Linked DNA regions of Homo sapiens: all the other regions are linked to region 1. The links come from fine-mapping of genetic effects on gene expression. A gene starts in region 1. Each other region holds a variant in brackets. All regions are shown on one strand. Distances are from middle to middle.

The links.
Region 2: its variant is fine-mapped to the expression of ADGRA1 in spleen (GTEx, PIP above 0.99).
Region 3: its variant is fine-mapped to the expression of ADGRA1 in fetal neocortex (Walker 2019, PIP 0.95).

Annotation. Positions count from the first base shown.
Region 1 is chr10:133,084,033-133,092,204 of GRCh38, forward strand. ADGRA1 (adhesion G protein-coupled receptor A1) reads left to right here and starts at 3,892. Exons shown (of 7, transcript NM_001083909.3): 1 at 3,892-4,106; 2 at 4,676-4,880. The coding sequence starts at 4,878. It overlaps ADGRA1-AS1 (ADGRA1 antisense RNA 1), which reads right to left and starts at 2,665. Exons shown (of 3, transcript NR_111905.1): 1 at 2,457-2,665; 2 at 1,499-1,614; 3 at 1,212-1,361. RefSeq lists an enhancer at 5,046-5,808.
Region 2 is chr10:133,106,688-133,114,859 of GRCh38, forward strand. All of the region lies in intron 5 of ADGRA1 (adhesion G protein-coupled receptor A1), which reads left to right. Among named protein-coding and RNA genes, the nearest start is that of ADGRA1, 23 kb to the left of the region's middle. The variant G/GA (reference allele first, on the strand shown) is at 3,768.
Region 3 is chr10:133,126,536-133,134,707 of GRCh38, forward strand. ADGRA1 (adhesion G protein-coupled receptor A1) reads left to right here. Exons shown (of 7, transcript NM_001083909.3): 6 at 698-796; 7 at 1,794-5,140. The coding sequence ends at 2,976. Among named protein-coding and RNA genes, the nearest start is that of KNDC1, 30 kb to the right of the region's middle. RefSeq lists enhancers at 277-988, 989-1,701. The variant G/A (reference allele first, on the strand shown) is at 3,286.

The sequences.
Region 1 (8,172 bases):
AGGTCCCAGTGGCCTGCCCAGTTAATGAGGCCAGGTGGCGGCCTGGCCCCTCCCAGAATAGAACCCCAAACTGACCTTTCCAGAAGGGAGGAAGAATCGCAGAGCAGTGGGAAGGGCTGGGGGGTCCCATGCACCCGAGACCCTGTGAGCCTGGGCCTCGGGTGCCAAATAAACAACAAAGCCCTCGAGAGTCGCGCGCCTCAGGAGTGGGGCTCTCGTTGCTGTCGGGCGGCGTCCAGCAGCTGTTTCTTTGGAAGGTCAGTGTTGAAGGCGTTAGGATTTGCGTCAGGAAGAACTGCTCCCACCCCCCTGTGCCAGGCCCACCTCCACCAAGGCCAGCTGGGCTGTGTTCAGACTGCCCGGCCCTCCACAAACCCCTCCGCAAACCCAGCCATTTCTTTTGAGAACATCTTTCCTCCCACAGTGAGGCAGGAGCCACATGCCTGCTTCCGTGTGGACTGTGAGCTGTGTGTTCTTACAGTTTTAAACCATCAGAAAAAGTCAAAAGAAGAATAACCCTTCGTGGCACGTCCATGGATGACGCTTCGTGGCACACAGGCCCACCCCTCGCTGGTGTGCTACCTGCAGTGCCGAAGCCAGCAGGAGGCTGCCCTGATGGAGAACGTGGCTGGAGGGGCTGCGGTGGTCGGCCCTGGGCATCCGCTTGGCAAGGCTGCTGTCTGCAGTTTCCCATCGAGCACTCGTGGAGTTGCTGCTGAGAAAGGGGTGGTGTAGATGCAATGGCCGTGACCAGCACTTGGCCGTCTGCGCTGTAGGCCAAGGAGGCCTGCCTGGGCCCACCTGGCTGCAGCGGGGAGCTGAGCCTCCCTGAGGAGGAAGGAATCGCACCTGGGGCAGCAACAGCAGCTCCTGCCTGGGTCCCTCATGGCCGCGTGAGCCGCTTCCTCACTGTAAAGCTCTTCACCTATGTAACTATGTATCAATGTAAACAGGAACGTATCCTCCGCCTCTGCATCTCTGGTGAATCCGGGCGATACGTGGTGAGACACCTTAATAAACACCTAGATAGACCCTGCCGTGGTGAGCACCTGCCTCCAAGGGGCAAGCACGGGGCATTTTCCTGGCTAGGAATTCTGTCTTTCTCACCACGAGACTCTTCATGGACTTACGTTTTGAAACAGCATGTTTGGGTTTGTTCGGATTTTAAAATTTCATTCTTCTTTGTCTTATTTCCATTTCCTGGTCTTATCTTTTTTTCTTTTGTTTTCCTCTCTTGGGGAGGTAAGAGTCAGGGAGGCAGGCAGCACCCTCACCCGTGTGCCTGCAACATGGTTGAGACGCTTCTCTCCTGCCGGGACTGGAAAGGTGGGCCCTGTGGTCAGCCGGTGCCGCAGCCAACCCTGCAGTCCAGAAAGCAGACGCTTTGCTGATGAACAGTGAGCAGAGGGCCGGGGGCCCAGGGCCCGGGGCAGTGACCTCTGGTGGCAGGGCAAGTGCTGACATCCCCGGGCTGCCGGGCACACGGCCGCCGGCTCACCTGCTGAATGCCACCCAGAGGCCTGCGTGATCCTCCAGGGGGGCAGCTCCTCATCCTGCCACACAGCGCCCGGAGACTTCTGGAACACACAACCGCAAGTGGGGTCTAACCTGCAACTGGAAGAGCACGTGACTGTCTGTGCCTCGGTTTCCCCATCCCACAGGCGTGCCGCCCAGGCCACCATGTGGGACTGTTCAGGAGACAGTGCCCGGTCCCCAGCACCACCCTGGAGATGAGACCTGAAGCAGGTGCCCTCCAAGGGCAGCTCCAGGGAGGGGCTCGCAGAGCAGCGGGGGAGGGGCCCTGGGGGGCAGCTGTGAGTGAGCAGGAGACACCCGGTGCCCCCACCCCTCACAAGGCCGAGCCCCACAGACTCTGCCCAAGGGCAGCTCTGGAACACGTGGCAGTGCCAGCTCCCCCTGGCTCTCTCTCCTTCACCTAGGTTATCACTAGGTGTGGAATGGGGGGGGAGGGGCAGCCCTCCCGGGTCCTGACCACCACGTGCGGGGGCAGCAGGACATTCGCAAGCCAGTGGACCTGTCTGCCTCAAGTGCCGGACCCCAGGGCCCCCACAGCACCTGGTAGCCTTCTGTGTGTCCTACCCGGATACCAGCGGCCTCCAGGGCTTTCCCTTGGACAACCTTTCCCTTTGGAGCCTGTGGGGGCCCAGCCCAGGGCCCAAAACCAGCTAGGACTGAGGTGGGCAGTGGGAGCTTCTCTGGGGCCTCCCAGAGCCTGGCTGGCTCCACCACCTCCCTCTGCCCCCACAGCACCTTCGAGAAGTTCCCCCGCAAAGTCCCCGTGGGACTCAGGGCAGGGCTCCAGTCCGTGTGCAGGGAAAGAGACAAGCCAGGGCCACTCCCCCCACCGGCCGGGGCCTCCTCTGGGCCCCAACTGTGATGTGCCAGGAGCCTCCCGGGAGACACAGGCTGACCTGTGCTCAGTGTGGTACCCTCACCTGGAGCAGTCTCTGTGGTGGGAGCCGCTGGGTGCAGGAGTAAGACGTCAGGGCAGAGCCCATGGGGACCCCCGGCCTGGGGACGTCTGGGGCAGAATCCTCCCCTTGCTGCCCGCTTCTTCCCAGCCCTCTTGTCCAGGACCATCACCCAGGGGACACCAGGGGGGGCTCCGAGGCTCCAAGGGAACGGTGTCCAGGGAGTCAGGGCGGCCAGGTCCTGGGGTGCCTAGAGCGTCTCCAGCTGGGAACTAGACCGTCGCCTGCCTGGACCCTGTGTCCCTCAGCTGGAGTTCAGGGACCAGCACAGTGTCCCCACAGAGGGGCTCTGGGAACACCAGCTAGATGGGGCAGTGGGGCCCTGAGCACATCCCGCTCAAAAGCCCCATAATGAGAGGCCGGGGAAGCGGAACGCTGTCACCCCTGCATCTAATTCTGCCTCTGTGAGTCTTCATGACAACCTCCCAATAGTACATCCTTCAGGCCCCTCAAAATCCATGGCAGCAGGGCCTGGGGACCCCCTGAACAGGCGCCAGTGTCACAGAACCTGGGGCAGAAGTAGCCATGCAAGGGTGGAGGCCAAGGAGGGAACAGGTGGAGGGGTGTGGGGTCACCCAGGGCCAAAGGGGGAACAGGTGGAGGGGTGTGGGGTCACCCAGGGCCAAAGGGGGAACAGGTGGAGGGGTGTGGAGTCCCCCAGGGCAGTTCCTGAGACTCTTGCTGAGGCTGCCACCAGGCCAGCACGTGCCCCAGAAAACGGAGTTTGTGACGAAAACTGGAGTGGACTTGGACCCACCTTGTCGGGTAGGAGGCCCCTTGGGGCAGGATAGGGACCTGTGGGATGTGTGCAGAGCCCAAACCTCGCTGCGGGTGGGAGGCTGGGCTGCGCCGCCCCTGGCACCCTGGCCTCCACACTCGCCTTGGCTCTGGATGCCCAGCTCTGTGGCCCAGGATGCAGGAGGGTTGGGGTAGGGGGACAGGGACGCTTTCTGCACAGCCACAGGCCCTGTCTGTCTACACCGGCTGCGGCTGCCCTGCTGACTCACACTCAGACGGGTTCACGACAGGTGCACCTCGGTTCTGGCATATCTGGACTTGAGAATGTTAAATAAAGGATGGAAAATTCCTTCCAAATCCATTTTCTTGTGTATATTTCTGTTCCTGCAGCTTCTCCACGGATGGAGATTGTCTTTGGGAATAACACAGGGTCGTGCAGTCCGCCCGGCGGCGTTTTCGGGCGAGGGTCTGGTGCTGGGGAGCGAGCGCGGAGCGAGGTGTCTCTTTAAATACGCTCTGCAGTGTGACGGCGGCCGCCCGGCTGGAAGAGCCATCCCCACCCTGCGGCAGGAGCCCGCCCGCCGCCATCGCCCGCCCCGGTCCCCATGGTTACGCGCCTGCCTCCGGCCCCGGGTCCCCGCTGTCGCCGCGGGAGGTGCGCGCAGAGGCGGCGGCGCTGCTGGCCGGGCTGGGCCGCTCGTGCGCGGGGCTGTGACTCACCGGCCGGCGCCGCAGCCCCGCAATCTGTTGATAACTCGGTCCCAGCTCGGCCGCTGCCCTCGCGAATGGAGAGCGGGTCCCCGGCGGGGGGAGCGCAGCGCGTCTGTCTCCGGGAGCGCGGCCCGGCCGCCCCGGCAGCCGCTTCGGCCACAGCAGGTGGGAAGGACGCGCGGGTCTGGGCGGCGGGAGGGACGCGCGGGGCCGCGGCTCGGCAGAAAAGCTCGCGCCCCGAGGTGACACTGGCCGCGAGGAAAGCAGCTCCGAGTAACTTTCGGCTCCGCTGGGGCGGGAGGCGCCACGGATAATCCAGGGCCCCCGCCCCGCGCGCCCGGCCCGGAGCTCGAGCCACATCCAGGCAGAGCAGGCGCCGCGGCCGGGCTGGGGCGGGCGGGTCACTCGGTGCCGGTTCCCGGTGCAAACCCCCCGGCGCGCCTCTGGCTTTGTGCAGCCCGAGATGGTTGAGTTTGGCTCCGGAGCCGGGAGTGGGGCGCAGATTGATTTTTAAATATGGAGAAGGAGACGCATCTGCCGCTGGCGCGTTCGGTCCGAGCCCCCCACCGGTCCCCACCGGCACCGCCTCCGCCAGCCCCAGGCGCAGCCCCCAGGCCGCCCGCGGAGGGGAGGGAGCGACAGGGGCCGCGGCTGCTCCCTGGCGGGGTCGGGGCTGCGAGCTGCCCTCCGCGGGGACCCTCCGCCCGCCCCGCTGACCGCCGCTGTCTTCACAGATGGGAGCAGCTCCCGGACTGCGCCCGCCCCGCCGCGGTCACCCTGAGGCCAGGGGCCCGGGAGCGCGACCTCCTGGCCGCCGTCTGGGACTTTGACCTTCCAGAGGCCATGGAGGCTGGCGGGGAGCAGGGCGCCACCTGATCGCCTCCCCCTGGACGCCTCCTCCAGCGGCGCTCACGCTTCCGCAACTTTGCAGCGCTCATGGTGAGTACGGGGGTCCCGGGGGTCCTGCAGCTGGGGGCTAGGCCGCTGCGGGGGGGCGGCCACCCGTATGGGGACTCCCAGGCTGGAAAAGTTGTGGAATGGCGAGCTGGTGACCGGGCTTCCGGGCTCAGTGCCGGGGTGGGAGGCTCTGTGGAGTGGGGGCCGGGGACAGGCCGCGTGTCTGGGCACCTCTGCTCCCCGCGTGCTGGGTGCTGATCATACTAATGAGTTGCAGGCATATGGCAATGTGGAATCATTTAATCAATGGAGGCGACGTCCCTCCCGCAAAGCTGGCATCCGTGCCCTGTGAAAACCTGGTCTGTGCCTGGGCTGGGGTCCCTGCCACCCCAAGCCCCTCCACCCTGGTCACCGGCCTCCTCCACGCCACCCTGCCGGCCCCTTCCCATTAGAAAGTTGATGAAAGGCAGTGCGGACAGACGTAGGTGGGCTTCAGCAGTGGAGGCTGTGGCGGAGAGAAGGCGGCCGCGCACACGGCAGGCACGGGAAGGGTGTTTCAGCGGGAAGGGGCTCGTGGCTGGCAGCTGGCTGGATCGGCTAGCCGAGCCCATCGTGGGTCCCTCCCTGAGGCACCAGCAAGCTTTTGCTGCAGTTGCTGAATGTCTGGGTTCCGGAAGGGCTGACAGCTGAGTGAACAATGCATTGTGTGTGCTGGTAAGGGACAGCTGACAGGCGGTGAGGACCCAGGGCACGTGCAGAGAATGCCAATGGCCTCTAGAATGTGCGGCCGCCACAGACGCCGGCTGGCGTGCTTCGGAGCAGACCCAGTGTTCGCTGCATAAGGAGCCATCGGTCTGAGTCACTTGCTCATTTTCTTCTTGTTCCGTTCGAAATGTCCAAGCAAGAGAGATGCCTTTGCCAACATTCAGTATCGTCTTCCAGTGGCTGCTTCACCTCTGAGGCTGGCTGAGGTCTCCGCACTTACCTTTCAGACACCTGACAAGGTTGCGTCTCCAGCACCAGCAGCACCTCAGGGGGCAGCAGGCCAGCCCCAGGGCTCCTGCCTGCCCCCAGGCTCCCACCAGCCTCAGGAACCATCGCTGTTGCCCCGCAGGTACCACACCCAGCGCAGCCCCAGGCCTCCCAGTTGGCAGGATCTGTGGCTTTTCAGCCTCAAATTGAGACCCTTATTTGCAAAATGGAAAACTGTCATTGACAGAGGACAGTGAACGGAGAAGGGCTTCTGAAGGTGGGGGTGCTGCCGCAGCCCGGGGGTCCCTCTCATCCCCTTCCTCGCCTCCTCCTCTCTAACCCTTGGCCCTTCTGCGAACAACTGTGCGGGGGCCTCCCCAATCCAAGAAGGGCACCACCCCTCGCAGGCTGAGCCTGTTCGTGCACTCTCCTCTCAGCTCCTGGCTCCTGGTGGAGCTTCCTGCTACCACCTCCTCGGCCCGGGGCCACCCGGTCCCAGCCGGCCTGGCAGCCCAGAGCTCCTGCTCACCCAAGACTGTGAAAGCCTGCTGAGCTCGATCTGCCTGGAGAGTGTGGCATTTCAGCAGCTCACTGTTTTTATTCACAACAAGTAACATTTGCACCTGAGAAAATCTCTGAAAGTGTGAGGAGTTGCCCTCCCGTGCTGCATCAGTCTGGTGCAGCATTTTTCTGCATGTGTCTCCAAGTTCACAGCGTAGTGTGACAGCGTAATTCACAGCACGTGTCTCCAAGTTCACAGCGTAGATACCTGGGCAGGCTCACCCCATGGCCATGGGGTCTTGAGAAGGAAGCCTGGAGGCCGTGGCCAGGGCAGGGTGGCCCTGACTCTGCCTGCCCCACTGCTGTGCTCTGGGGGGCTCCTGACGCCTGCCAGGGGCAAGCTGCCTGCTGAGCTCCCAAGTGTAAGGGCATAGGGCACAGGTCACAGGTCAGATTCTTTGGTGGCATCGCTCCTGGCCAGGCACAAAGGCATGAGTCAGCCCTGGATTCTGAGCTGCTGTCCAGCAGCTTGGCTGGGCCAGGCCGTCCTCTCAAAAGGCTGGTTTGTCGGCCCATGGTGCTCTACAGGATGGACAGTTTGCTCCCCTCTGGAGGACCTGCAGGCCACCTGTCCAGTGGTTAAAGCTGGGGCACCTCCTTCTGCAAGCTGTGTCTCCGTCACCACTGTTAACGAGCAAAAGCAAATGTGAACTTGCCTGTCTCCGCAAGGGGTGCTATCAGGACTTACGTTCCAGCAGGCTCCGAAATGAAATAGGTGTCACTTCGCACCCTGTAACTTGCAGTCCTCACACTTAACTCAGAGAACAGTTGTTCTCGAGGGCCTGAATTTGAGGCTGAAAAGCCACAGATCCTGCCAACTGGGAGGCCTGGGGCTGCGCTGGGTGTGGCACCTATGGGGAAACACCTGCAGGGTTGGATGGTGTGGCTGGTGCAGTGTGGTTGCCGTGGGATGGGCGGTGTGGCTGGTGCAGTGTGGTTGCCGTGGGATGGGCGGTGTGGCTGGTGCAGTGTGGTTGCTGTGGGATATGGTGTGGTGTGAAGATGTCGTCTGGCCCTCTGTGGCTACTTTCATTCCACAATTGCAATATTTAGGTGCAGCTGGGAGCATGAGCTCATCGTCCCTTCAGGGTTCAGGCCCTGTGCCGATGGCACCATTGCCTGGTTAGCATCTGTGTTTCTATGTGGTCATCTGTGAGCTGCCAGCTTTCTGTGAGTAGGGTGGAGGCTCTCAAAGGGGACTCAACCGAGCCCCTTCCAGCTCTCAATTCAGGGCTGACTCTTGGTCATCAGAGGCGCTGTTTGCTGCACCCTGCATGTTCTCAATGCCGGGATTGAGTGCGAGGACAAGCTTGGGCTGGGGGACCCCAGAGACCTGGTGTGTGTAGGGAGCTCCTTGGGTCTAACACTTCCTTCCCCAGCTTCTGAAAGGACAGAGTGCCTTCGAAACCTCCAAGGAGACGAGGCGGGTAGCCAAAGGGTGAAGACCTCCAACCGGAGGGTGACAGGCCCAAGGTCAAGGCCAGCCTCCTGGCGGTGCCCCCAGGAAGGGGAGTCTCGGAGGCCGAGAGTGAGGAGGAGCCTGCAGCTGCTCCCCGAGGCCGGACCCATGTGAAGTCCGCCCTGAAGAGAACCAGGATCGGGTCCTGGCCCAAAGGCAGGTTGTGGGAGACTCGGAGCTCTGAGTTGTTAGGAAGTACGTGAGCCCACATGAGGTGGGTTTATCTCTGCTCAAATTTTACCCCTTGGCCTCTGCCAGGAATGGGCATTCAGGAGGTGGGAGGGGCCCGGGACGCAGGGCCTCTCACAGGGCGTAAGGATGGTCGGTCGCGCGTACGAACAT
Region 2 (8,172 bases), 23 kb after region 1:
ATCCTGTCGAGGTGAGGCCTGGGCGAGTGGATGGACGTCACACAGAGTGTGCAGCATGCTTCCTGGGGGAAGGCCATCGAGGCCAAAGACCCTCACAGATAAAGCGGAAGGTCATGTCTCTGCACACAGTCTCACCCCCGCGGCTCAGAGTGCCCATCGCGGGCTCCTGGGCAGTGTTTATCTGGGGCCACGCCCGCTCTGAGCGCCACTGGAGTCACGATTGCATCTGAAGGCCACGTTAAGAAGCGTCACCGTTTCAACAGCACCACGTCTTCCAATTCGTGAGCACAGGACGTCTTTCCTTTTATTTAGCTCTTTAATTTCTTCCAGCAAAGCGTTGCTGTCTCCAGTGTACACATCTTGCACCTCCTTGGTTGAATTTTTTTCCCAGGGATTTTATTCTTTTGATGTTATTATAAATGGGGTTCTTTTCTTAACTTTCCTTTCAGATTGCTTATTTGTTTGTGAACAAAACACAACCGATTTCTGTGTGCCAACCTTGTGTCCGGCAGCTTTGCTGAGTTCCTTTATTGGCTCTAGTTGGTGTTTTGTTAATTCTTTAGTATTTCCTGTATATATAATTATCACGCCATCTGTACATAAGGATAATTCTACTTCTTCCCTTCCAGTCTGGAGGGCTTTATTTCTTTTTCTTGCCTAATTGTGCTGGCTACAACTTCCAATACAAAATGAGTCTCTCTTTTTTTTCTTTGTCGGTCTAGCTAAAGGTTTGCCAATTTTCTTGATCTGTTTAAAGAGCCAGTTTGAGTTTCATTGATGGTCTTTATTTTTCTGTTGTCTATTTTATTTGTCTCAGCTCTGGTCTTTATTACTTCCTTTCTTCTGTTAGCATTGGATTTAGCTTGCTCTTCTCTTTTCAGGTTTCTTGTGGTATAAAATCAGATGGTTGACTTGAGCTCATTTTTCTTATGTGGATGTTCACAGCTATGAATTTTCCTCTGAGTGCTGCTTTTCCTGCATCCCTGAGCTGTCTCGTGGGTTTTTTTGTTTCATTTATCTCCACATAGTCATTTCTGCTTTTCCTTGTGATTTCTTCTCTGGCCCATTGGTTGTTTTAAAATATGCTGTTTAATTCTCACAGATCTCTAGATAGTCAGGGAAAAAACCACCCTGTCTAAAATTGTGCTGCAACTTTTAGTGTCAAGCTGAATGAAGGGAGTCCCCACTTGATCAATGCAGTGTGGTTTTGGGTGGCTTGTCTCTGCAAGGAGATCTTCATTACAATGATGAAAAACATTTTTTCATTTCTTTTCTGTGATTTGGGTACAGCAGAGGGGTGTGAGGGAGTGGGTGACCCTGCACATCCTGCTGTGTGGCCTGCCCTGGCCAGCCCAGCCTTCTTCCCTTTCTCCACATGTGAGGAGTGGAGTGGATGTGGGCACGAGGGGCCAGGGAGTGCCTCAAGGTTAGGCCTGGACCAGGCATCACACAGACCTCCCCGAGCACACCTGGGAGTGTGCAGGACCTGCTGCCCTGCTGGTGTCTTCAGTGCAGGCATGGTTGTAGGTTGTGTGTGAATCTGGTCCCTGGCCCCAGAGCTCTGCCTCGGGGCCTCCTGTGGGTGAGAAACCACACAGAACCTGGCGTGAGCCTTTGGCCAACAGAAGTGTCACCCTCAGCCTTGTAGGGGAGAGTTTAGGAGAAGGACAGGTGCAGCCTCAACCGAGGAGTCCATGGACTCTTGGCACTGCTAAATGGGGCTAGGGTGACTCCGTGGAGAAGGAAGCAGGGAGGGACACCAGAAGGGAAGGAGGAAGAGGATTGGCAGGGAGGAGACAGAGGTGTTGGACACAGGACCCCCCAGGCCCACAGAGGCACCGGCTCAGCCACCCAACCCCTCACAGTGGTGCCTCCTTGGATTCAGGCACCCTCACCTTTGACCAACATGGTGGCCACTGTCACCTCCCAATACTCTCAAGATTCTAGACACTAGACTCTGTTGCAAGACTCTGTTGCCAGTCCACAAAACACCATTTGCAGTCTGCCCACCAGTCCTGACCACTACACACATTTGCCGCAGCCTCCTGATGCCTCCCTCAGATATCCCAAGACAGCTCAATACTGGGTGCATGTGGCCCCAGCTCCACCCCTCCCCTCACATCCTCCATGGTCCCAGCTCCACTCGGCCCCAGCTCCACCCCTCCCCTCATGTCCTCCATGGTCCCAGCTCCACTTGGCCCCAGCTCCACCCCTCCCCTCATGTCCTCCATGGTCCCAGCTCCACTCGGCCCCAGCTCCACCCGTCCCCTCATGTCCTCCACGGTCCCAGCTCCACTTAGCCCCAGCTCCACCCGTCCATCAGTCCCACAAAGGAACCAGCTCCACTTGGCCCCAGCTCCACCCCTCCCCTCATGTCCTCCATGGCCCCGGCCCCACCCCTGCCCCTCATATCCTCCATGGAACCAGCTCCACCCCCACAATGTCTTTGCAGCTCAGCAGCAGCACTGCTCTCCCAGCATTCGTGTCTGGGTGCTAGACATTTTGCCAAACTCTCTACCCCCTTTCCCAGATCAGGCCACACCTCCAGGCCCAGGAGTCTTCCCCACCTTTCCTGTCCCTCCTCCTCTCCCAGCCCCCGCTCCCTGGACCTCATCTTTCCTGCTCTGTGGACTGCCCTGACCCCAGCGGGCCTCCAGGTCCCTTTCTCAGCCTCCTGCTCTGCCACCTCCACACCACCTGGATACTTTTTCTCCCCAGCTGGAAGCCTGACTGCTTGCCCCCACGACCACTCCCCAGACCCCCCATTGCTGCTCAGCTGTGGCTCAGAGCCTTCCTGTCTGCCCCTTCCTGGCCTCACCTGCCCTTTGAGCACTGAGGGTCGGTCCCTCCAGTGGGATGGTTACCTCCCGTCTCCATTCCAGCCTCCTCCCTGCACCTCAGCTTCCTCTTAAGTGAGACCCCGACCTTCTGCCCGGTGCCCACCTCCTATTGCAGAGCAACTGTCCCCTGACCTCTCCTCCCCTCGATGACAATGACGGGAAGGTCCCTCCTGGTTCATATTCTCCAGGCTTGGCATCCAGCCCCTCCTGATTAAATGTTGAAACCAGAAAGAGACAAACGGCAGGGATGTAGTAAATATGTGTGAAATCGGCCTCCAGGCTCAGCTGGGCTGGATGTGTCGATGGAAAGCAATCAGTTTCATACTTTGTTCTGAGGCTTGGGTGAGCAGCACACTGCCCGTCATGCAGTGTCAGGCCCCACGGCCTCTGCACACTCAGGGCGGGGCTGGAAGGACTCGGGACTCAGCAGTGGTGGCATTCCTGGGTGTGGTTTGTCTCCACAGAAAGATACACTCAGGGAGGGGCTGGAAGATACACTCAGGACTCAGCAGCGGCGGCGTTCCTGGGTGTGGTTTGTCTCCACAGAAGGATACACCACAGGGCCAACGAGGGAAAAGACATCCAGCAGGGTCCAAGACTCCAGGTGCCGTCTCCAAAGTTCTCCTGTCCTGGGAGACGGCAGGTGGGGAGGATCCACACGGAACCTGCTCCTTCCTCCAGCAGCAAAATGCAGCAAAGTGTGCCCCGCACTTCTGCCCAGGAGGCCGCTCAGGCTCAAGCTCCGCATTCTTGCTGGGACAGGTCACTCCTGTGTGCTCTGCCAGCTCCGCTGGCCACAGCTACGGAGCCTCACACTCTGGCGGGAAGGCAGGTGCTGCCGTCAGTCATAAGGTTCATGCAAACAGCCCAGGCTGCTGTAGTGCCACATCCTGCGTCCCTGCACACAGAGCAGCCTTATCAGGCAGT[G/GA]CGTGGGGAATGTGCTGAAAGCCACTGACCCAGGCACCTGCCACGCCCCAGAGCTGGCCCTTCTGCAGAGCAACACTGAGCTGCACAGGGTCGAATGTTCAGAGAGAAGCTCCTTGGATCTGCCATTTCTAACTATATGAGTGAGAAGAAAGAAAGCCTGAGAGAGAGAGAGTCGGTAAGAAATATAAAGAAATACTGGAAGAAAAAGAATAAGGGCAAATATTATGCACCCTGAGCTGACCCTTTGTACACAAAACAAAAGCCAGTGGTCTGATGCCCATGTCTGAACAATTAGCCTGCTTCCTCTATACCCATATCTCACAATCCAGATTTATTTTCCGGAATTCTGTTTTGACCTCTATTCAGCCTCTTCCCCTTCCTTGTCTTTAGTTTCCTGCCCAATCCCTTTGCCGCAGAGTGATGTCTGCATGGGGCCCTGGACACAGGTGCTGCTGGATAATTCAGTGATCCCAGGTCCCCAAGCACCTGCTCCAATGTGAGCACAGCCCACTGAAGGGTTGTTTCTGAATCTGTTAAGTGGAAATGTGGCTGAACTGGGGAGGTTCTGGGTAGGCTGGGCCACCTGCCCACCAGGGACACCTGCCCTCCTAATCCTGCCAAGCCACCTGCCTGCCATGGGCAGCTCCCCTCCTAATCCTGCTGGCCACCTGCCCGCCAGGGGTGCCTCCTCTCCTAATCCCACCAGACCACCTGCCCGCCGTGAGCACCTCCCTCCTAATCCCTCCAGACAACCTGCCCACCACAGGCACCTCCCTCCTAATCCCACCAGACAACCTGCCCACCACAGGCACCTCCCTCCTAATCCCACCAGACAACCTGCCCCCCCGGGAACCATCCCTCCTAATCCCACCAGACCACCTGCCCACCACAGGCACCTCCCTCCTAATCCCACCAGACAACCTGCCCACCACGGACACCTCCCTCCTAATCCCACCAGACAACCTGCCCACCACGGACACCTCCCTCCTAATCCCACCAGACAACCTGCCCACCACGGACACCTCCCTCCTAATCCCACCAGACAACCTGCCCACCACAGACACCTCCCTCCTAATCCCACCAGACAACCTGCCCACCACGGACACCTCCCTCCTAATCCCACCAGACAACCTGCCCACCACGGACACCTCCCTCCTAATCCCACCAGACAACCTGCCCACCACGGACACCTCCCTCCTAATCCCACCAGACAACCTGCCCCCCCGGGAACCATCCCTCCTAATCCCACCAGACCACCTGCCCGCCACGGGCACCTCCCTCCTAATCCCACCAGACAACCTGCCCGCCACAGACACCTCCCTCCTAATCCCTCCAGACCACCTGCCCACCACAGGCACCTCCCTCCTAATCCCACCAGACCACCTGCCCACCACGGGCACCTCCCTCCTAATCCCTCCAGACCACCTGCCCACCACAGACACCTCCCTCCTAATGCCTCCAGACCACCTGCCCGCCGTGAGCACCTCCCTCCTAATCCCTCCAGACCACCTGCCCACCACAGGCACCTCCCTCCTAATGCCTCCAGACCACCTGCCCACCACAGACACCTCCCTCCTAATGCCTCCAGACCACCTGCCTGCCATGGGCATCTCCCTCCTAATCCTGCTGGCCAGCCCACTTTGAGGAAGGGCCTCTAAGTAGACAGAACTTTCCACATTTTCTGCTCCCTTTGCCAGCCAAAAGGAAGACACTCCAGAAACAAGCAGACCTTTTGTGATTTCATAGGTGCTCGGGGGCTGATTCCCCATTTAGCCATGAATAATGACATCTTAATTTTGCAGTACGGCCACCCTTTCTGATCAAGTGCACCAAGCTGTGTCAGTTATTTGGGGTCTGCGGGCCGCATCGGTTATCTGGGGTCTGCAGGCTGCGTCAGTTATTTGGGGTCTGCGGGCCGTGTCGGTTATTTGGGGTCTACGGGCCGCGTCCGTTATTTGGGGTCTGCGGGCCATGTCGGTTATTTGGGGTCTACGGGCCACGTCAGTTATTTGGGGTCTGCGGGCCGCGTCGGTTATTTGGGGTCTGTAAGCAGTGTTGGTTATTTGGGGTCTGCAGGCCGCGTCGGTTATTTGAGGTCTGTGGGCCGCATCGGTTATTTGAGGTCTGCGGGCCGTGTCGGTTATTTGGAGTCTACGGGCTACGTCGGTTATTTGGGGTCTACGGGCCGCGTCCGTTATTTGGGGTCTGTGGGCCATGTCGGTTATTTGGGGTCTACGGGCCACGTCAGTTATTTGGGGTCTGCGGGCCGCGTCGGTTATTTGAGGTCTGCGGGCCGCGTCGGTTATTTGGGGTCTGTAAGCTATGTCGGTTATTTGGGGTCTGCGGGCCGTGTTGGTTCGGTTATTTGGGGTCTGTAAGCTGTGTTGGTTATTGGAGGTCTGCGGGCCACGTCGGTTATTTGGGGTCTGCGGGCCGCGTCAGTTCGGTTATTTGGGGTCTGTAAGCTGTGTCGGTTATTTGAGGTCTGCGGGCTGTGTCGGTTATTTGGGGTCTGCGGGCCGCGTCAGTTATTTGGGGTCTATAAGCTGTGTCAGTTATTTGGGGTCTGCGGGCCGCGTCAGTTATTTGGGGTCTATAAGCTGTGTCAGTTATTTGGGGTCTGCGGGCCGTGTCGGTTCGGTTATTTGGGGTCTGTAAGCTGTGTCGGTTATTTGAGGTCTGTGGGCCACGTCGGTTATTTGAGGTCTGTAAGCCGCGTCGGTTATTTGAGGTCTGTAAGCCGCGTCGGTTATTTGAGGTCTGCGGGCCGCGTCAGTTATTTGAGGTCTGTAAGCTGTGTCAGTTATTTGGGGTCTGTGGGCCGTGTTTCGGTTTGGAAGTCCAATGGCACCGCGGCACTTAGATTCCGTGTCACGGCCCGGCTTGCCGAGGATGCCTGCTCCCGCCTTCACCTGCCTCGCAGCCTCCCCAGTGCTGGCCAGGCGCTGAGGGATGCTTGACCCCACCCCATGGATGAGTGATTTCCTGGGGCTCCTTCAGCTGGGAACCCTCTCTAGGCCACAGGGCAAACTCTGGAGACTGCCTTGGGCTTGGGACCTGCCCGTGGCCACGCACTGGGCCTGGCTTGGACCCCACTGGGCTGGGGCCCTCGGGCACTGGGGCCCTGGGAATGGCCAGTAGGAGGTGTCCACTCCCTCCTGTTCCATCTGGAATGCGTGCCTGAGGCCAGTCCTCAGGATGAGCTGCCTAAGGGCGGGCAGAGGTCACAGGCGAGCAAGCGACCTGGCGCCTGCCACTTCCAAGAATGTGGGTTCACTGGGAGAGGGCAAGGATGGGGGTGGGTGGGAGGGAGCCGAGGGAGCTTTGTGCGGGGAAAACCCTGGAAGGGAGCAGCTCTGAGATCTGTGAAGCAGCCTCCCGCCCCTTCCCCATGTCCCTGTGGACCCTCGGACGTCAGGCCAGGAAGGGCCTGGGCCTCCCACTTGGCCCTCTAGCCCAGCCGTGAGCTTTACAGATGGGGAAACCAAGGGCCCACAGGCACGGGGACTTACCCAGAGCCCTGGCCTGGCCACCAGGACCTGGCATCTCACACTTTGGCGGTCCCCTGACTCTAGACACCATGAGTACCTCCGTCTCCTGCCCGGTCCTGTTGTCTACTGACAGCAGCGCTGGCTGAGGAAGGGAGGAGGTGCCACGTGGTACAACCCCTTCTCCACCCCTGGGAACAGCACCAAGCCCAGTGCCCGCACACTTAGCTCCCCTGAGCAGGAGCAGAGGGCACTGGAGCTTCAAGGGCAGAGCGGGACACACCGCCACTGATGCCTGGGTCCAGGGATGGTACCTCGAGGCCACATGTGGCCTGACGTCCTGGGACACAGACCTCGCCCTGGAACATAGGTGCTCTTCACAGCACAAGTGATCCTGCAGACCCATCCTTGGGCACCCACTGCAAGCGGACCAGAGCGGCGGTGCTATGGCATTCAAAGCATCTTGTCAGTCACGAAGCGTCCTCAGCTCATGTCTGGAGCTGGGCATTGTGGTGCCGTCTGCAGGGTACAGCTGGTGCCCAGGACAGTGGCCCTGTCCTTCTCCACCTGACTCCTGTCTCGCCAGCCTACCTTCCTCCCGACACCCGCGGCGTCCTCCTGCATCCACCCTCAGAGGTTATCGAATGCCGAGGAGCCCAGGATGCACTTCCGAGGCTCACTGGTGACTTTCCGGAGATACTTAGGCAAATGGACATAAATAGCTCTTGGATCCTAGCAGGAATTCTCAACCTCATTTCTCGGAATTCAGAAGTCACGGTTAACTCAAAGAATGCTAAGCGGGCCAGGGATCACGATCTCACAGATGGGTCCCGTGTCCCAGGGCAGTGAAGGTGCCGGGGCCGTCTCCTGAGCTGTCTGCTGCCCGGTCCTGCTCCGCCCGCCCCTGCGCCCCTGCA
Region 3 (8,172 bases), 43 kb after region 1:
GTCTCATGGGTCCGGGTGGGGGCTGGAGGCGGTGAGCAAGTGCACCCGGTCCGGGACACGCTGCATCCCGCTTGGATCCCTGGGCGCCCTCAGCACCGTTGCCAGGCCCTGCAGAGGGGAAGGTCAGCCCCTGCCCTGGGCTCGGGCTGTGCCTGTCAGGATGAGACTCTGCCCCTCCAAGGCGGGGTTCCTCGGTCTGACAGGGAGCAGATACTTCGGCCCTCCGACCTTCTTCCCCTGAGGCTGAGCGGGGCCTTAAAACTGTTTAAAACGGGGCACTGCTGGTCACTGGCCACGCACTACCCGCGGGGAGGGGCCATGACCTGGGGACCCGGTGGGACGCACAGCTCCCTGTGTGACCCCACGCTGCCCCGGGGAGCAGTCCCGCCTGTAGCCAGGGGCTCCCTGCAGTTGCAGAGAAGTCCGCAGCCAACGGAGCTCTCCCGGGGCCCACCCGTGAAAGGACCTGGTCAGGGCCCTCTCCAGGCGCAGAGGCCCGCGGGAGGCCAGCGAGGCCGGCACTGGCTGCTCGGTCAGTGGTCGGGGGTCGGGGGTCGGGGGTCGGGGTTCTTGGTCTCCTCCTGCTCCGCCCGCACCCGCTGCTCTCCCTTGCCCCGCGGAGTGGGGGAGGGACAGCGCTGACCCCGGAGGATGCAGGCGGCGTCTGCAAGGGGGTCAACGCCTTCCTCCCCGGCAGGTTTTACCTCGTCAGCGGAGGGGTCCCCTTTATCATCTGTGGGGTCACGGCTGCCACGAACATCAGGAATTACGGGACAGAGGACGAGGACACGGCGTAGTGAGTACCGGGCACCCAGAACCGGGAGCTGGGAGCAGCGGGTGGGCTCTGCCTGAGGTCCCTCCCAGGCACCTGTGGTGGGGAAGCCCAGGACGAAGCAGCAAGGCCTGGGCCTGGACCTGGGGCTTGCCGAGAGCTGCGCCCCTCCCAGCTCGCACCCCCGAGGAGTGCGCAGCGCCCCCTCCTCTCCCAGGGAGTCCAACCTAATCTTTGCCTTTGGACAAGGCAGGCCTGGTTTGCCTTCTATGGGAGGGGCCTGGGGACAAATAGCGATTTGGCAACAGCACAGAGCTCAGCTGAGAAGGGAAACCCCATCGAGTAGGAACGGCGGTCCAGCCATCAGTGCCCAGAGCCAGCCTGGAACCTCTCATTCAGGGCCCTCAGTTCCTTCTGCGGCCCCAGGATGGCCCGCCCGTCTGCCCTCCGCCTTGCCCCGCCCACCCAGCTCCACCTCCGCCTGGCCCCGCCCACCCAGCTCCACCTCCGCCTGGCCCCGCCCACCCAGCTCCACCTCCGCCTGGCCCCGCCCACCCAGCTCCACCTCCGCCTGGCCCCGCCCACCCCACGCTGGCCACGCCCACCAGGCTCCACCCTCTGCCTGGCCCCTCCCATCCAGCTCTGCCCTCTGCTCAGCCCCGCCCACCCCACTTCACCTCTTCCTGGCCCCACCCACCCCACACCAGCCCCACCCACCCAGCTCTGTCCTTCCTGCCCCTGCCCACCCAGACCCGCCCTGCACCTGGCCCCCTGCCTGGCTCTGCCTCTACCCGCACCTGGGACACTTTCCTGGCTACCCCACCTCCCAAGCTGGTAGGGCCAATAGGGCCCGGTTCCCATCCACACTCTCAGCGACTCTAGAAACGCCCAAGGCCCCCAAGCCGCAGCTGTGCAAAGCCACTCGCTAGGCCGGGTGGGTGCAGGGCCCTTTGCTCTGCAGGGGGCGTCCTGAGTCCTGGCCGTGCTGGCCCCGCTGACACTGACGTGCGTCTCCCCACAGCTGCTGGATGGCCTGGGAGCCCAGCCTGGGCGCCTTCTACGGCCCAGCCGCCATCATCACCCTGGTCACCTGTGTGTACTTCCTGGGCACCTACGTGCAGCTGCGGCGCCACCCAGGGCGCAGGTACGAGCTGCGCACACAGCCCGAGGAGCAGCGGCGGCTGGCGACACCCGAGGGCGGCCGTGGGATCCGGCCAGGCACCCCACCCGCACACGATGCCCCCGGCGCCTCCGTGCTGCAGAACGAGCACTCATTCCAGGCACAGCTGCGCGCCGCCGCCTTCACGCTGTTCCTGTTCACGGCCACGTGGGCCTTCGGGGCGCTGGCGGTGTCACAGGGCCACTTCCTGGACATGGTCTTCAGCTGCCTGTACGGCGCCTTCTGCGTGACCCTGGGACTCTTCGTGCTCATCCACCACTGCGCCAAGCGTGAGGACGTGTGGCAGTGCTGGTGGGCATGCTGCCCGCCCCGCAAGGACGCCCACCCCGCACTTGACGCCAACGGGGCCGCGCTGGGCCGCGCCGCCTGCCTGCACTCGCCGGGACTGGGCCAGCCACGGGGCTTCGCGCACCCACCGGGCCCCTGCAAGATGACCAACCTGCAGGCCGCGCAGGGCCACGCCAGTTGCCTGTCACCGGCCACCCCGTGCTGCGCCAAGATGCACTGCGAGCCACTGACGGCGGACGAGGCGCACGTGCACCTGCAGGAGGAGGGCGCCTTCGGGCACGACCCCCACCTGCACGGGTGCCTTCAGGGCAGAACTAAGCCGCCCTACTTTAGCCGGCACCCAGCAGAGGAGCCCGAGTACGCCTACCACATCCCATCCAGCCTGGATGGCAGCCCCCGCAGCTCGCGCACAGACAGCCCCCCCAGCTCTCTGGATGGCCCGGCGGGGACACACACGCTGGCCTGCTGCACCCAGGGCGACCCCTTCCCCATGGTCACCCAGCCCGAGGGCAGTGATGGGAGCCCTGCCCTCTACAGCTGCCCCACGCAGCCGGGCAGGGAGGCAGCGCTCGGGCCCGGCCACTTGGAGATGCTGCGGAGGACACAGTCCCTGCCCTTTGGTGGCCCCAGCCAGAACGGGCTGCCCAAGGGTAAATTGCTAGAAGGCCTGCCGTTTGGCACCGACGGGACCGGCAACATCCGAACGGGACCCTGGAAAAACGAAACTACTGTGTAGATGGGGGCAGAGGACACGGTGTTCCTGGAGGAGCTTCAGAGCAGAGTGGGGGGCCCATCTGCCACATGAGGTCACTGGGGGTACCGAAGTGACCCCGCCTTTCAGAAGCCGTTCACACCCCTGCCCCTTCCTTGTGATCACACCCCTGCCCCTTCCTTGTGATCACACCCCTGCCCCTTCCTTGTGATCACACCCCTGCCCCTTCCTTGTGAAAGACCTCAGCGGGGAAACGCTCCGGGCCACGCCCACTCCCCTTATCCCAATTCCGCGTGCTGGTCCCGCACACGGTCATCCGGTTTCTGTCCTGTG[G/A]TCTCCAGTCCTGGGGCACCCTAGAGGCAGAGCAGGGGATTCCATCAAAGGACCCACTGAGACCCCAGCATGGCCCTGCCCGAGATGCCCTGCTGCCCACGGAGTCCTGGCTTCCCCTGGTGTGGCCGGGCAGGGCCGAGATCGCAGGAGGGGGCTGCCCTGACCTTTCCCAGTGTTCAATGTGTGTGTCTTGCGTTCTACTCCGGGGGTGGCGGCGGCAGGTCTGTCCCCAGCATTCTCGCTCTGGGCAGAACCCTCGGGACCCTCCGCTGTCGTGTGTCTGAGCCACCCCTGCAGCTTCACAGGGCCCCTGCACACCTCTGCCCACTCAGTGTGCCCTGTCAGCCCTGTCCTTGTCGTAGCCCCAGCCCTGCAGGGCTGAGAGCACCACAGATGCTGGGGGCTGCTCTGGACTTTGGGGATGGCTGTCAGCCTCAGAGGGCCAATGGGGGGCTTTCACGGGCCCAAGGCTTGGGAAAATGCCCAGACATCCTTTAGTGAAGACTCGACTTCCAAAACCAGCCACCGCTGGGACTGGATTCCACTCCAGTATAGGCACTTAGCAACACGAAGGTTTATTCCAAAAAGAAAAGGGGCTGACAGACGGGAGATTCTCATGGACAAAATCCCTTTCCCTTTTTCTCGTCTCCATGAACATCTGGGTACCAAGCCCTGACTCAAAGGACAGATGTGGATGACAGCAAGACTTCTGTGAAAGCAAGTGGCCCGTCCCTAGGTGGGAGGGAGTCCAGAGGGTCATGGGTGTGAAACTGTGCACAGCTTTCCCTCCCTCCCTCTTCCTCCTTGTCTGTGACACATGTGCACCCACACACACACACACAAACACATGTGCATATCACACACATGCACACACACAAACACATGTGCATATCACACACGCGCACACACCCAAACACGTGCATATCACACACATGCACACACACAAACACGTGCATATCACACACATGCACACAAACGTGCATATCACACACACGCACACACACCCAAACACGTGCATATCACACACACGCACACACACAAACACGTGCATATCACACACAAACACACGTGCACACATACTTAACACACACTTGCACCTGCTGTGCACATGTGCACACACACGTAGTAGTGTGTTTTCCAGCCACCCACACACTGGGTTTGCATTGGAGATTGTTTCACCCTGCAAACGTCAACGTCAGCAGACTCGTCGGTGCGCTGTGCTATCCGGTTGGGAGGTCTCACCAGGAGCAGAGCCTCCCTAACGTGCACCTCCGAGAAGAGGGGTGTCGGGGAGTGTTCCCAGCACCTGCTCGGTGGAAGGGCTCTCCGGAGACTGGCACTCAGTATCTGAGTATGAGGAGCCTCACTTCCCGGGGTGTCGGTAAACTTGACCGTGACTCAGTAACCCACAGCGTGCTCCTCCCAGCAAACCCCGTGTGTCCTTACAGGTCGACCAGACGGGCCGTCGGAGGACCACCAGGTGGCTCTGCCTCTGCCTCACCTTCTCACCTGCTTCCATAGCTGATGTGAACCCGAATCCCCACGCTGTGCTGTGTACGCACTGTAGGTGCAGAACCGTCCACACAAAAATACAGTCTTGGCATTGTTTGTTCTTTGTGAGGCTGGTTAATAGCATCCCCGTGTGTTTTTCTCACCCTCGATGGGGTAGAGGGGCACCTGAATGTGTGGCCCCCGTCTGTGTCCTGGATCCTGGGGCAGGGCTGCTCTCCCTGGCCCCTGCAGCCCCTCATGAACTTTCCACCCTCAGTGCCCCCGGCTGAGCAGAGAGGCGTCCCACCATTCAACCAAAGAAAGTCAACATTGAACATTAAACCTCTGTGTGTTTCTATACTGACTTAGCCTCATGAGTCCACTTGGGACTGGTGTTGGGCCATATCCAATTGCACGTAACGTTTTGGAGCATAAACATCCACAGCCCAACCACCCTGAGGGGCTCCTGGCTCGGAGTCAGCTTCCACCAGACCATGAAGCCAGAGCCAGACCCTGCGTTCCGCACCTGACTTTCGTGCCACTTCCTTCCTTGTGTGTGCCCGTGTGTCTGCATGTCGGATGCAACGGAGCGTGGGTGCATGCCAGCCTGTGTGAGTGTGCTTGCCTGTGTGCCTCCGTGTCAGACGTGCTGGAGCGTGGGTGCATGCCGGCCTGTGCGAGTGTGCCCCTGTGCCTGCGTGTTGGATGCAATGGAGCGTGGGTGCATGCCGGCCTGTGTGAGTGTGCTTGCCCGTGTGCCTGCGTGTCAGACGCACTGGAGCGTGGGTGTATGCCGGCCTGTGCGAGTGTGCCCGTGTGCCTGCGTGTCGGATGCAATGGAGCGTGCGTGCATGCCGGCCTGTGTGAGCGTGCTTGCCCGTGTGCCTGTGTGTCGGATGCAATGGAGTGTGCGTGCATGCTGGCCTGTGCGAGTGTGCCTGTGTGCCTGTGTGTGTGTGAGTCCGTGTGCCTGCGTGTCGGATGCGATGGAGTGTGCGTGTATGCTGGCCTGTGTGAGTGTGCTTGCCTGTGTGCCTGTGTGTTTGTGAGTGGCTTGTGGGTTGTGTGGGTGTTGACGTGTTAGTGTGTGAGAGTGTGCGCCTGTGTGGTGTGTAGGTCCCTCTGTGGGAGTTGTGTGCACACATGCACGTGTGCTTGAGGGTAAGTGTGCATGTGTGTGCATGCTCTTTGGAGGAACACTGTGAGGCGGCCCCTCCGCCCTGTCTCCGTGCGGGTGTGTAACTACCACACGGCAACACTGTGGTGACTTTAGTCAGCTTAAAGGACTAGGAAGCAGAAGCTGCCTGTGCCTCCAGACCCTGACAGTTCTTCTCTGGAGCAGTCCTAGCTGAGGAGGCCTCCAGTCCTGGGAGACACACAGTGGCATCTGCCGCGTCGCCCACGAAGGCCCCAGACAGGGCTCAGATCTGGTCGGCCTGCTCTGTCTCTGAATGAGCCACCCCTGCAGGGGCTTTGGGCAGCTGAGGAGCCCCCACTGGTTCTGCGGGGAAGGGGCTGGGTTGGGGCCCGCACGTTCCACCTGCCTGAGCAGGACTGAGGAGGGATGCAGGCTGAATGGGAGCACTGGGCCCCTGGGAGGGCCTTGGCAGAAGGCAGCTCAGCAGCCACACGCTAGGCTGCAGTGTCGCCCATCAGTGACAGCAGCTGCAGGAAGCCTGTCTAGGGACCCTGGAAGGAGCTCAGGGCCCTGCACTGATGTGGTGAATGCCCCCCATGTGCAGAGACTGGCTGCAACGGGCACTTCCACACCTACCCAGTGCCCAGATGGTGCCTGACCGGTCCTGCCACTTGCTCCCTGACCCTTGGTGCTTGCATTTCTCGGGGGACGCTGTCGGGACCAGCATTGGCCTGAGCTGGAACAGTGGGTGTGTTCACTGTGCGGGGACTGTGGACCCTGCTCCTCCACGTCTCACGTGGACCCTGCTCCTCCGTGTCTCACGTGGACCCTGCTCCTCCGTGTCTCACGTGGACCCTGCTCCTCCGTGTCTCACGTGGATCCTGCTCCTCTGTGTCTCACTTCATCACGCTTCCCTTCCACTGCACTGCCAGGGTTTGTACCTGAGCCTAGAGGCTTCTGCAGAGCCTTTACTGCACAGGCACCTTCGGCCAGAAATTCTGCCTGTTGTATTCAAGACCAAGGACTGTTCTGTAGCCTTTGAGGTGGGTGGGGTGGGGGTACCTTGGGCAGATGGAGGCCGGCCCTGTGTCTGCAGGGGCAGCGTGTGCCCAGGGAGGCAGGGGACGGGGTAGGGGGAGGGAAAGGGTGAGCACCCCGTGAGGACAGACAAAGTGCTGTGAGGCCAGGTCAACGGTGGGGTGGAGGCGGGGCCTGGTGGGCATCTGGGGAGGCTACTGGGCACAGGGACAGAGAAGCCAATTCGGAGGGTCCCTGGGGCCAAGTCTGAGCAGGCATCTGAGTGCTGTGGTTGTTCAGGGCAGGCGGAGCAGGAGGGGCATAGGAGGGCCTGGCACACGTGAGAGGCCTGTCCCTCGGGCCACAGCTAGAAGATCAGTGTCTCCCAGTGAGACAGGTCAGGCTGCAAGTGGGCTCAGCAGCAAGACAAGCCCTTCATGCCCGCCGTGCTGGCTCCTCTGGGCCTGGAGGGAGGGCTGCTGGGTGAGCTGGGGCCCACCAGGGCAACTCCCAACACTGGCTGTCCAGGCCTCCTGGGGGCTGCAGGGCCAGTGCCTGAGCACAGACGTGGCTGCCCACAGACGGTCCTGCAAGGACTCAGGACCCCAGACCCCAGGCTGCATCCCCCCGGCCACAGATCTGCAGGCGGCCGACTTCCAGAGGACAAGCAGCACCGCTCAGGCCCAAGTGGGCGCCGACTTGGACCTCACACCTCTGTCCTGTGTCCCAGGAAATGACTGGGGTTGCCAGGGCCTGCCTTTCCTTCCCACTCCCATCCCAGGACGTGGGTACTGGGAAAACCACTGTTAAGAGGACACTCTTAAACTCACTCTAATTACTTCTTTTCTACATAAATATCAACAACTTCCCCTGTAATCGCAACAGACACCTTGCTCCCTACTCACAACTCCAACCACACCCAACATAGCCCTTCAGGGAGGCCTGCAGGTCAGAACCGGCAGCAGAGGCACCCAGAGCTCAAGTCCCTCCCTGCCAGCCGCCCCCCAGCCTCTCCCAGACAGGGTCACTGAACAAGCCACAGAGTGGTGCAGGGCTGACATCGGCCAGGGACAAAGCAGGTGAGTACCCATGTCTGCGCCCTGGCTCAGAGATTACTCCAAGTCCAGGTCCTAGAGGGGTGAATACCCCTGGTGTGGGATTGGCTGGTTTAGTACTCATGTCTCTGTCATGGTCCAGAAAGTACCCTTGGTCTAGGTCCTAGTGGAGTGAGTACCCTGGTG